3 separate regions of the Homo sapiens genome follow, and all the other regions are linked to region 3. Evidence: fine-mapped expression QTL. A gene starts in region 3. Each other region holds a variant in brackets. All regions are shown on one strand. Distances are between the middles of the regions.

Evidence for each region. PIP is the estimated chance that this variant, and not a neighbour inherited with it, causes the effect.
Region 1: its variant is the best candidate, but not a certain one, in a credible set for the expression of KLHL42 in aorta (GTEx, PIP 0.72).
Region 2: its variant is the best candidate, but not a certain one, in a credible set for the expression of KLHL42 in whole blood (TOPMed, PIP 0.57).

The regions. Positions count from the first base shown.
Region 1 is chr12:27,726,696-27,730,940 of GRCh38, forward strand. The region is part of intron 5 of MRPS35 (mitochondrial ribosomal protein S35); the gene reads left to right. Among named protein-coding and RNA genes, the nearest start is that of MRPS35, 18 kb to the left of the region's middle. The variant C/G (reference allele first, on the strand shown) is at 1,577.
Region 2 is chr12:27,738,727-27,742,971 of GRCh38, forward strand. All of the region lies in intron 7 of MRPS35 (mitochondrial ribosomal protein S35), which reads left to right. Among named protein-coding and RNA genes, the nearest start is that of MRPS35, 30 kb to the left of the region's middle. The variant G/A (reference allele first, on the strand shown) is at 2,367.
Region 3 is chr12:27,778,369-27,782,613 of GRCh38, forward strand. KLHL42 (kelch like family member 42) reads left to right here and starts at 1,865. Exons shown (of 3, transcript NM_020782.2): 1 at 1,865-2,834. The coding sequence starts at 1,963. MANSC4 (MANSC domain containing 4) reads right to left here and starts at 1,868. Exons shown (of 4, transcript NM_001146221.5): 1 at 1,842-1,868. RefSeq lists silencers at 1,467-1,686, 1,707-2,016 and an enhancer at 1,882-2,381.

The DNA of each region.
Region 1 (4,245 bases), 52 kb before region 3:
GGTATGAAAGTATCATTGTAGTTTTGATTTGTGTCTCCCTAATAACCATCTTTTCATGTGCTTGTTGACTATTTGTATATGTTTGGAGAAATGTCTGTTCATATCCTTTGCCTGTTTTTTAATTGGGTTGTTTATCTTTCGATTGTTGAGTTATAAGTGTATTTTATATATTCTGGACACCAGTCCCAGTCCCTTCTCAGATATATGATTTGTAAACATTTTCTTCCATTCTTTGGGTTGTCCTCTTACTTTCTTGATGATGTCCTTTTTTTTTTTTTTTTTTGAGACGGAGTCTCACTCTGTCACCCAGGCTGGAGTGCAGTGGCTCGATCTCAGCTCACTGCAAGCTCCGCCTCCTGGGTTCACAGCATTCTCCTGCCTCAGCCTCCCGAGTAGCTAGAACTACAGGCACCCGCCACCACGCCTGGCTAATTTTTTGTATTTTTAGTAGAGATGGGGTTTTCACCGTGTTAGCCAGGATGGTCTCGATCTCCTGACCTTGTGATCTGCCTGCCTCAGCCTCCCAAAATGCTGGGATTAGAGGCGTGAGCCTTTTAAGCACAGAAGTTTTAATTTTGATGAAGTCCAATTTATGTAAGTCATGTGCTGCATAATGATGTTGTGGTCAGTGATAAACACATACACAACAGTGGTCCCAAGAGATTATAATACTGTATTTTCACTGCACTTTTTCTATGTTTAGATATGTTTAAATACACAAGTACAATTTTGTTACAGTTGTTACAGTATTTAACAGTAACATGCTACACAGGTTTGTAGCCAAGGAGCAATTGACTATACCATGTAGTCTAGGTGTGTAGTAGGCTGTACCACCTAGGATTGTGTAAATACATAATGATGTTTGTACATGACAAAATCACCTAGCCATGTCTTTGTCAAAAAATATTGTTAAGTGGCGTATGACAGTATTTTTCCTTTTGTTTCTTGTGCTTTTGGTGTCATATGTAAGAAATCATTGTCTTATTCAAGGTCATAAAAGATTCACTCTTGTGTTTCCTCCTAAAAGTTTTATAGTTTTAGCTCTTACATTTAGATCTATGACCTATTGTTTGTTAATTATCATACAGTTGTTCCTCAGTATCTGTTTGGGATTGGTTCCAGGAACGCTTGTAAATTCATAGATCTGTGGATGCCTAAGTCCCTGATATAAAATGGCATAGTATTTGAATATTGAATATAACCTAGTACATCCTCCTATATACTTTGTCATTTCTAGATTACTTATAATGCCTAATACAACGTAAATAGTTGTTATACTGTATTTTAAGAATATGCAGTTTAAAAATTGTTATATTGTTATTTTTTCTGAATATTTTCAATCCACGTTCCAATCCACGGTTAGTTGAATCCACAAATGTGGAGCCCGTGGAGACAAAGGGCTAACTGGATATGGTGTGAAGCTGGGGTCCAGCTTCATTCTTTTGCATTCCGTTTGCATGTTGATCCAATACCATTTTTGAAAAGACTATTCTTTCCCATTGAATGGTCTTGACATCCTTGTCAAAAGTCATATAGTTATCTTTTAACTTTTCATTTGGCTACTTTACCAAATTCT[C/G]TTTTTTAAATTTTTTATTATGAAAATTTTCAAATGTATGGACAAGTAGAAAGAGGCTAATATAATAAATACCCATACACATGGCATCTTGATTTAGTAATTAATATTTTGACAAATTTGCTTCATACACATACATACACATCTAAGTACCTTAACATTTCTGACACCTAATGTTTCACACTAAAATACTTCAGTGTGTTATCTCTAAGAATTAAGGAGATGTTTCCTATTTAATTCCAATACTATTACCACATGTAACAAAATTGTCAGTAATTCCCAAATATCATCTAAAATATCTACTCCACATTATATTTCCCCTATTGCCTTACAAAATGGTATTTTTTAAGCTCTGTTATTGAAACCAGAATCCCGCCAAAGACCATTGTATTTGGTAATGATGTATCTTATGTTATCTGGAATGGCAAACAACCCCACCTCCCTCCCTTCTTCCTGATGAATTTGACTTGTTAAAGAGACAGGGTATTTATCTTGTAACATTTCCTATCTTCTGAATTTGCCCCATTGCATCTGGATGTCATTTACCTTATTTCTTTATCTCCTGTATTTCACATAACCTGGAAGTTAGATTTAAAGGGCTGATAAGATTCCAGTTAAATATGTTTGGCAAGAATACTTTATAGATATTGCTATGTATTTTATATTGCATCAGGGGCACGTAAAGTCTGGTGGCCTCATTCTCAGTATGCTGAAATTGAGCACTTGGCTAAGAAGCTGACAACCTAATCATTCCTTTGTGAAGATTTTTGTTTTGCTTTTCCCTTGAACAAGTAATCTGTGGGTGGATATCAAGTAAAATCATTATTCTTTTTGGTCCTCGAAGTATATCTATCTTACCTTTGGCCAGTGGGAACTCTTTTAAGTTGGTTCCTGTGTCCTTTTGTTACAATCCTTTAGCATTTGAAAGTTTCCTTGTATTTTGACACAAGATGGTTCAGGCTCATTTTTATAAATTTCTTATCCCGGACCTGGAATCAGCCATTTTTCAAGGAGCCCTAATACCTGCCAGTGGACAGTGGTGTTTACAGACCATGATCTGGATGCTAGGACTTCTCAGCTGATTCTTTCGGAAATTTCTCAAGACATAATAGATAAATAATGGTAGTTTTAATTCCCCTTTTCAAGTAACCATAGCTTGTTTTTTCTTTTTGTCTTTTGCATTAGATAAAATTTCTGAAGTCATATTTCTGTAGTTCCTTATGCTGTTGCATACTTTAATTGTCTGTGCCTCTAGTGTTTAACCTCAAGTATGAGGTAGGATTTCAGTGAGATAATAGTGTTTATTATGTTAATGGTGTATCCTATTCTTAGATTACTAGCATTTATGAAATTACCTCCTTTGAATTATTGAAGTCATAAATTACATCAATAGGTTTTCAATATACTGATGCATTTCTGAACCCTGGTCAGTTCATAGTGTATCATTCTTTTATTCTACTGCTGATTTGCTGTGCTAGAATTTTACTTAGGGTCATTTGTCCGGATGCCATATTGCTTTGGAGAAACATGAGATCCCTACTGTTACTCACCTGGACCACGCCACGTGCCATTGCACTTCCAAGTGTCTGCCCTAGGAACTTCTAATTTAGTATTTGAAGTCACTGTTTGTTTCCTTTGTCAAAGAAATCTTGGTACACATGGCATATCTTTTTCACACAGCAGTCATGGAGCAGTTACCTGATATACTTTTTAAAATTAAACTTTTTATTTTAGAATAGTTTTTAGTTTACAGAAAGGTTCCAAGAATAGTAGAGAATTTCAGACCCAGGTTCCCCTGTTGTAAACATCTTAAAATATACTATGGTACGTTTGTCACAACTAGTGAATTAATATTGATACTGAATCAATATTGAATTTATTGTTATTAAAGTCCCTACTTTGTTCAGATTATCTTAGTTTTTTTCTAATACCCTTTTTCTGTTCCAGAATCCCATCCAGTTTACAAATCACATTTAGTCATCATAATTTCTTAGGTTTATCTTGGGTGTGATGTTTCTCAGACTTGACTTGTTTTTGATGACCTTAACAGTTTTGAGAAGTACTAGTTGTATATTTGGTAGAATGTCTTTCAACTTGTTGTGTGTTTGGGGAGAAAAACCCCAGAAATAAAGTGCCATTCTCATCACATCATATCGAGAGTATAGGCTATTAAGATGATTTGTTTTGTTTGTTTTTTTGAGATAGTGTCTCATTCTGTCACTTACGCTGGAGTGCAGTGGCACAAGCACGGCTCACTGCAGCCTCGACCTTCCCAGGCTCTGGTGATCCTCCCACCTTTGTTTCCCCAGTAGCTGGGACTACAAGCGCAAGCCACCACGGCTAGCTAGTTTTCGTATTTTTTGTAGAGATGAGGTTTTGCCATGTTGCCAGGGGGTTTTGCCATGTTGCCAGGGCTGGTCTGGAACTCCTGGGCTCAAGTGATACTCTCACCTCAGCCTCCTAAAGTGCTGGGATTACAGGCAGTGAGCCACTGTGCCGGCCATGATTTGTCAGTGATGATGCTAATCTTCATCACCTGGCTGAGGTAGTACTTGTCCATTTTCTTCACCATAAAATTATACTTCCTCCCCTCTTACCCATACTCTACTCTTTAGAAGAAAGTTACTATGCAGAGCCCACACTTAAGGATCAGGAGGTATGCTCCACTTCTT
Region 2 (4,245 bases), 40 kb before region 3:
CTTTAGAAAGGACTTCATATGTCAGTGTCTACAGAAACAGTGAAAAAAGGAAAAAGAAGTAAAGAAAAATAGAAAAAATAAAAGTTTTCATATGGAAGAGGGCTTACATTTGTTTTTAATGACTCTTAGAGATACAACAAGGTAGCGACAATAGTAAGACAGAGACAGACTTTGGTTTACTGAGAACTTTTTTTTTTTTTTTTTTAAAGTCTCACTCTGTTGCCCAGGCTGGAGTGCAGTGGAGCGATCTTGGCTCACTGCAACCTCCGCCTCCCAGGCTCAAGTTATTCTTCCCGAGTAGCCAGGATTACAGGCATGCACCACTACCGCCTGGCTAATTTTTGTATATTTAGTAGAGACAAGGTTTTGCCATGTTGGCCAGGCTGGTCTCGAACTCCTAACCTCAGGTGATCCACCCGCCTCGGCCTCCCGAAGTGCTGGGATTACAGTTGTGAGCCACCATGTCCAGCCCTCCCAAGGGGAACTTTGTGAGAGAGCCATCATAAGATGCAATGAGCTACTTCAGTAGGTAGAAAACATTCCATCCATCGGCCACTTAGTGAAGATAGGCAAAAAAAATATACTCCTTGAATAGGTAGTTAAATTCCATGGCCTTTGGAACCTCCTTTCAGCCCAAGTTACTGTGATTCTGTGAATACATGCAGCTGTTCTCTAAACTGCTCACAGCTTTTCCTTCATATTATGATAAAAGAGTTTTCACACAAGAGGATGAATGGAAAGTGAAAGAAAAAAACTTGGTTGTGAGATGAGTAAAAGACAAAAAGTAGCTGGTAAGCTCTTCTCTTCTTTACAATTATTTCCATTATTATAATTTATCTGGATTTTCTAGTTCTGGCTTTAAGAGCAACATCAGAATAGCAGTTAATCTCTTTCCTACACAATTGATTTTAGAAATGCTGTTGGCTTAAGATAATTAAGTTTTCTTTTGAACCAGCAACATGGCTGAATTAGCTACAGCTTTATGGCTGTTGCTGCTTAAAGATTTAATAACTAACAATAAATACAACCCGTTTTGACTTTCTTATTTTGCCAGTATCTATTAGAATGAATTTGCCCAGAAGGAAATGATAGGCATAAATTCAGTGGAAGTTGATTTATGGGATTCTTTCTGTGGTTCCGTGACTTAGAATCCAAACAGGGTTGCATTCTGGATTCACACAGAAGCCTTTGATCTTTAGTGCTGATTACTTTGATGCCAGGATAAGTAGCCACATACAACTGTCCAAACAAGTATACTTGAAGAATTCTATATTACCGTTGTTTCTTGGTGCTTTCTAAACAAGTACCATCAGTGAAGAAGATTTTGAATACAGATGAGCCGTGAAATTTTGCGGAGCTGCTAGAAAAGAATTTTTATTGAATTGAAATTCATTTTCCCTCACCAACATGGAATTCATACTTGAAATTGATGTTATCACCGTTATTTAATCAAATAGAGAGCCTCTTTTTAATCCATTGCTTGATTTTTTTTATAGGCTAGCTTCTGAGCATTTAATACCCAAATATATGCTTCCTTTGGCTTTTTTTTTTTTTTCTTCGAGTCAGGGTCTTGCTTTGTTGTCCAGGCTGGAGTGCAGTGGTATGATCATGGCTCACTGCAGCCTTGGCCTCCTGCGTTCAAGTGACCCTCCCACCTCAGCCTCCTGAATAGCTGGGACTACAGGCGCATGGCACCATGCCCAGCTAATTTTTGCATTTTTTTTGTAGAGATGGGATTTCACTGTGTTGTCCAGGTTGGTCTTGAACTCCTGGGCTCAGGCAATCCATTCACCTTGGCCTCCCAAAGTGTTGGATTATAGGCATGAGCCACTGTGCCCTGCCTTCCCTTGGCTTTTTAACCTTCCCCTAGAGGTTACCTCTAAGTAGCACTGAGGGGAAAGTAGCTGCTAATTTTATGTAGCTTGTAGTACTGAAATCCCTCTGGAGAAGTGATCACCTAGACTCCAGTAGAAGGATATTACTGTTGTATACTATTCAAAACAGTTTAACTATAGAAGTGTCAAAGTAGATTTCAGTAAGCATAGACATCGCAAAGCCTAAGCTTCAGGCATAAAGGCTTAATACTGCCTCAAAGAATAATTATTTCAGTGCTGGGAAGGTGATAAGAGACACATATTCACTGGACCATTCATTTATCCTTCAGCAGTTTAAAGAAGCAAGGAGGCTGGGAGCACTTTGGGAGGCAAAGGCAGGCGGATTGCCCGAGCTCAGGAGTTCGATACCACCCTGGGCAACATGATGAAACCCCGTCTCTACTAAAAATACAAAAAATTAGCCAGGCATGGTGGTGGGTGCCTGTAGTCCCAGCTACTCGGGAGACTGAGGCACAAGAATCGCTTGAACCC[G/A]GGAGTCGGAGGTTGCAGTGAGCCAAGATCGCACCACTGCACTCCAGTCTGGGCGACAGAGTGAGACTCTGTCTCAAAAAAAAAATAATAATAATAATTAAAAAATAAGCAAGGAGAGTTGTAGAGATTTGGTGTCCTATTTTAGTATTACGTATTGTTAGCATTGGAATGAATTTTTAACCTTTGGAGCCAGACAGACATGGATTTGAATTCCAGGGCCATTACTTAGTACCTGTGTAATAGCCTCGACTATTTAACCTCTGAGGTTCAGTTTTTTCCTAAGGATTTTTGGATGGATCAGGGAGAATTTGTGTAAAGTGTCTGGCAAATAGTGGGCTCTCCATAAGCATCTATAAATAATGTTGATATTAACAATAATAAAATGAGGAAAGATTTTTTTCTTAGAATTTTAAATTCATGGTTTCCCAATTTCTATTAATATATACAGCTTATATTTAATTTGGCAGAGTTTGTACAAGTAAAGTCAGATCTATACTCTTTAGGATGTGTATCCTACTCACAATTTGACATAATTGATGATAACACAACTTCCTTAATTTTAACTTTTTAGTGATTTTTTAATAATTGAAACCTTCCGTAAATGATTAGGTTGAGAAATAATGAGTCAGTTTGCAAAGTGACTTGCACAAAAGATGAGCACAAATACTGGGGAAGAGAAAAAAAACAGTTGCTTTAGAAAAGTTAGAGATCTGAAATCAAATTTCAGAGATTCATGGGTGATTTTGATATTGAATTACTAATGGTTGCTTTTTTACATTTTAAAATTTCGGCTGTCTTATTTGGATTTCATGATAGTTTTATTGTCAGAACTATGTCTAGCTTTGTAATAAAATGGTTCTGAAAAGTCATGTAACAAAAATTTCTAATTTAGCCAAGCAGTGTTGCATTCCTGTAGTCCCAGTTTCTCTGGAGGCTGGGGCAGGAGGATCTGTTGAGCCCAGGAATTCGAGTCCAGCTTGGGCAAATAGCAAGACCCCCAATAAAAATTAAAAATTTCTAAGTTGGAGAATTTTATACTTACTAAGAGTTCGTTTTAAAGGGGACATTATTGCAGATATTTCTGATAAAAATGAATACTTTTGCAGAGCCATAATCACCATTTAATCTGTCGGATTTATGAGTTCATTTTGATTGTGTATGCCTACACACCTGCATTTCCACTGGAGAATGCTTGAGCAATGTTTGCTATGTTTGTTCTCTTTTGCATTCAACAACTATTTAGTTCTTGTGTACAAGATATGTTGCTAGGTGCCACTATCAAAATGAATGACCCCCTGCCTTAGGTACCTTGATTTCTGGAGGGAAACCGTTGGTTATAATATAATCTGTTGAGCTTAATGGAAGTAGGAACACAGTGCTGTGAGAGCCACAGACAAGGGTTAACTCCCCCTGAAAACGTCACAGGAATGATGATGGGTTTTAGAAGATGAACAGGAGTATGTGGTACAGAGTGGGTGAAGAACTTTCTAGGCCTTGTGGGTTTAAAGAGCAGGCAGAAGTTTGGTGTAGCCAGGGTATAGAACTAACAGGGCCAAGAAAGGAGGTGAGGCTAGCAGTAAGTCAGAGACAGGCTGTGAAGCTCGTCGTAGTGCTTATTTGCAAAATGTAGATTTGTAACCAGAGGGCAACATTGAGCTGATACAGTATTTTACTAGTTATTTGAAAAAGTACTTCTCACTATTTTTGTTTCATTTTATTTTATTTTGGGGGCTTGTGTGTGTGTGTTTTACTAGACAATTTTAAAAGTTTATTTTCTCTTTGAAGACTGAGTTTTGCTTTGTCACCCAGGCTGGAGTGCAGTAGAGCAATCATAGCTCACTGCATGCAGCCTCTACCTCCCAGGCTCAGACGATCCTCT
Region 3 (4,245 bases):
AACCAAACTATGTTGAAAGGATCTCATGTTTCACCTTTGACTTTCTTTTAGTTCTCTGGTTTTTAACCCTTTCTCCTTCCTAAGGTAAAATGTTAGCATGGTAGGATGTATCTTCTTTAAATAGGGGAAATGTACTTATGAAGAAGATATTATTTAACAATCTGTCATTCAAGAAGAAAGCTGAAGCTTGTAATAATAAAAAAAAAAACCAAACACATATTCTCTCCAAGTTAAGGACTGTTTATCATAGGTGGTTCTCAAATCTTGGTTTGGGGTAAGTTTTCAAGGTTTTCTGTTTTTGTTTTGTAAGATAAGAGTGAACACACCCTCTGCTTCCTCCCAATCCTTCTCCCTTCTCCTACCCAAAGATAATCCAAACAATATATTTCTCCCCCCACCCCCTTCCTGGGATGAATTCATTAGCAAGACAAAAAGTCCTTCCTATTATTATTTGGGGTGGGCCTTCTAATTGCAATGTTCAGTGAGAGAACATAGGAAACAAGTGGTCTCTCTTTTCCGAGACGGCGTCTCGCTCTGTCGCCCAGGCTGGAGTGCAGTGGCGCGATCTCGGCTCACTGCAACCTCCGCCTCCCGGGTTCCAGCAATTCTCCTGCCTCAGCCTCCCGAGTAGCTGGGATCACAGGCGCGTGCCACCACGCCCGGCTAATTTTTGTATTTTTAGTAGAGACGGGGTTTCACCATGTTGGCCATGGTGCTCTCGAACTCCTGACCTCGTGATCTGCCCACCTGGGCTTCCCAAAGTCATGGGATTACAGGCGTGAGCCACCGCGCTCAGCCAAACCGCACGTGTGGTCTCTCTTAATAGTCCTCAGATGATGGGGGCAGGGTAGGTGGAGAAAGGGGGTGACAAGAAAAGCTACTTCTTGCAGACATTTATGAGCCAATTTTGTCAGATCTTTTGCGCCAGGATAACATTCCGTAATGGACTGGACTGAAGTAGAAAAGCAATGGCTCATAGAAAACATGGTTTAAAACCAGAAGCCACGTGATGTAACTTTATTTAGTCGGGCTGCGCTTTCATCTTTCTTTTAATAACTTAGGGAGAATAAGGGGCCCCAGTGGCAAATGCAAGCTCCCCTGCCTCCCAACCCGATTCCTCTGAGAACCTGCTGCCATCTGCCTGGACCTCCTGTAAGATGGCTCCTACGCGACCACGCTACCAGAGAATCAGCTCTACGTGCCACCAACATTGCCACCAACTGTCCATAGATCGCCTGCGTGCCTCAGCCCACTGACACTCGATGCCGGACTGGGCCAGAAGGACGACCCCATATTTGATGCCTTTTTGTCTCCCTGGACCAGAGACTCCATCCTTCCCTTTCCTCCCACGCTCATTTCTTTTTCTTTAGCCCGTGTAAAGCAGCGTGGGAGAGAAAACGAATTTCTTCTCCCTGGGGTACCCCGGAGCATCACTGCAGCCCCCAACAAGCGGCGGAGCCGGCGCGCCCCGGGCGGGCGGAGAGGCTGCGGGGACGCGCGCCCTCCGCCTCCCGCAGCTGCGCGTCCGCAGCCGAGGCGCCCGGGCCCGCAGCTTCCCGGGCCTCCCCGAGAGCCGGATCCAGCCGGCAGGTCAGGCCGGCGGCTGGGGTCCCGCGGGCGGAAGTGAGAAGGGCGGCGGGGGAGGAGGCTGCTGGCTGGGAGCTGGAATTCCCTTCCCGCCTGGCGCCGCCCGGGAGAGCCCGCGCGAGGACGCCCGCCGCGCTCCGCCGGCCCTTTTTTGGCGCTGAGGGAAAGGAGAAGGGCAGGGCCGCCGCCTCGCGGGAGCGGGCCCCGGGAGGAGGGGCCGCCGGAGAGGCCGGGCGAGCGCGGGCGGCCCTCACCTCGCCGCTCCTCCCGGGCCGCCATCCCTCGGCGCCCCGCCCGGAACCGGCGCGCGCGTAGGGGCTGGGAGGCCGGCGCGCAGATCTGGCGGTGAGCGCTGCCGCCCCGGGGCCCCCAGCCATGTCGGCCGAGGAGATGGTGCAGATCCGCCTGGAGGACCGCTGCTACCCGGTGAGCAAGAGGAAGCTCATCGAGCAGAGCGACTACTTCCGCGCCCTCTACCGCTCCGGCATGCGCGAGGCCCTGAGCCAGGAGGCCGGCGGCCCGGAGGTGCAGCAGCTGCGCGGCCTCAGCGCGCCGGGCCTGCGGCTGGTGCTGGACTTCATCAACGCCGGCGGGGCCCGCGAAGGCTGGCTCCTGGGCCCGCGCGGGGAAAAGGGCGGCGGGGTGGACGAGGACGAGGAGATGGATGAGGTGAGCCTGCTGTCCGAGCTGGTGGAGGCGGCCTCCTTCCTGCAGGTCACGTCCCTGCTGCAGCTGCTGCTGTCCCAGGTGCGGCTCAATAACTGCCTGGAGATGTACCGCCTGGCGCAGGTGTACGGGCTGCCCGACCTGCAGGAGGCCTGCCTGCGCTTCATGGTCGTCCACTTCCACGAGGTGCTGTGCAAGCCCCAGTTCCACCTCCTGGGGTCTCCTCCCCAAGCTCCAGGGGATGTCAGCCTGAAGCAGAGGCTGAGGGAGGCCCGGATGACTGGGACTCCTGTCCTCGTGGCCCTCGGGGACTTCCTGGGGGGACCCCTGGCCCCTCACCCCTACCAGGGGGAGCCCCCGTCCATGCTCAGGTACGAGGAGATGACTGAGCGTTGGTTCCCGCTGGCCAACAACCTTCCTCCCGACCTGGTCAATGTCAGGGGCTATGGGTCTGCCATCCTGGACAACTACCTCTTCATAGTGGGCGGGTACAGGATCACTAGCCAGGAGATCTCCGCTGCGCATTCCTACAACCCCAGCACCAACGAGTGGCTCCAGGTGGCCTCCATGAACCAGAAGAGGTAAGCACCCCGGCAGAGTGCTGCTGCCTTCTCATTCATTCACTTGTTCATTAGTTCATTACCCCAGTGTTTACTGAGCCAGTAAATAGGGGAGGGTGTGCTGTGGTGGAAATGACATCTTCAGGAATGTTGTTGGCCTTGGCGCTGGCAAAATTCCCAATGAACTAAGAAATTGCGAAGAGGACGTCCCCAGTGAGGTCAAGAAGTGGAGTGGTTTTTTGGCAGGTATTGTGCCTTTAGGTGAAACTGCTTTCTTTGCCTCTGTTCTTGTGAAAAAAGATGTTGTGGTTTCCTACAAGAATACTTTAAAAGAAAATTGCCCCTTAATTTTTAAAAAATTTGTCTTAGTTTTTAGGATTTGATCCTGATGATAATGATACACTGGACAGTAACCTGTAACACTGACTTTGGGGGATTTTTTTCTGATGTCAGTGACTGTGACAACAGAGTCTTCCACACTGTGATACCCATCATGATCAAGAGATAATCACTGGAAATGTATTAACGTTTGCAATAGGGGTTGCTTTTCTTATTTTTTATCCTCTCTTTTGCTTCCTTCCCTGGACAGCCATCGTCATGACCCACAGCTTGAGCCTGGAAGTGTTCAACTACAGAATTGGAATATTTTCATTTACGCAACCTTCTCCCCCTCCCATCCTGCAAATCTCTCCTGCCTCCAACAAGGGTGACTTGAAGAAAGGAAGAGGAGGAGCTTGAGGAGTGGGATGAGAGGGGAGAAGGGAAAGGAACCAGGGAAGGAATATCAAAACAAGAGCAAAGAGCATATACAGGAAGAGATGGTAGGAAATAAAGATGGTAGCGCCTAGGAGGCCTCAGCGTCATTCAGAAGCAGGGAAAAGAATCAATGTAACTCAAGAAAGGATGAAAATACCCTTTCTTCCCATCCACGTGTTTCCATCTCAATCCTCACAGGGTCCTGGTCCTGAAGTGTGGAGCAAGGAGTTGGGGAGCTCACAGCTGGGCAAAGAAAGTCTTAACAGTAACAGAGAATCCTTTATATATCTGTTTATTTGACTCGAGGGTCCTCCTCGGCCAGGGATTATTTGGGGGAAATAACTGGCTTTATTTCTCCTATAATATGAAATTCATTTTGAAAAGTATGCTTTTTCCCCTGATAATACATAGTTACAGAAAACTGGAAAATGGAAAAGAATGAAGAAGCAAAAAGATGATTATTCCTACCCGCTCTTCCTAGAGGCAGTAACCAGGTTGGCATATTTCCTGCCAGCCCATTTTTAATGCATTATTTACACCATTGAGATGATACCATATTTAAAATTTGGTATCAGAAGTGTTATTTTAAAACAAATTCTATGCACTGTAATTGAAACAACAAAGGAACATTGTGTGGCCATGGGTGGTGGTCTGATTAGGGGTGGGCGGCCCTGAG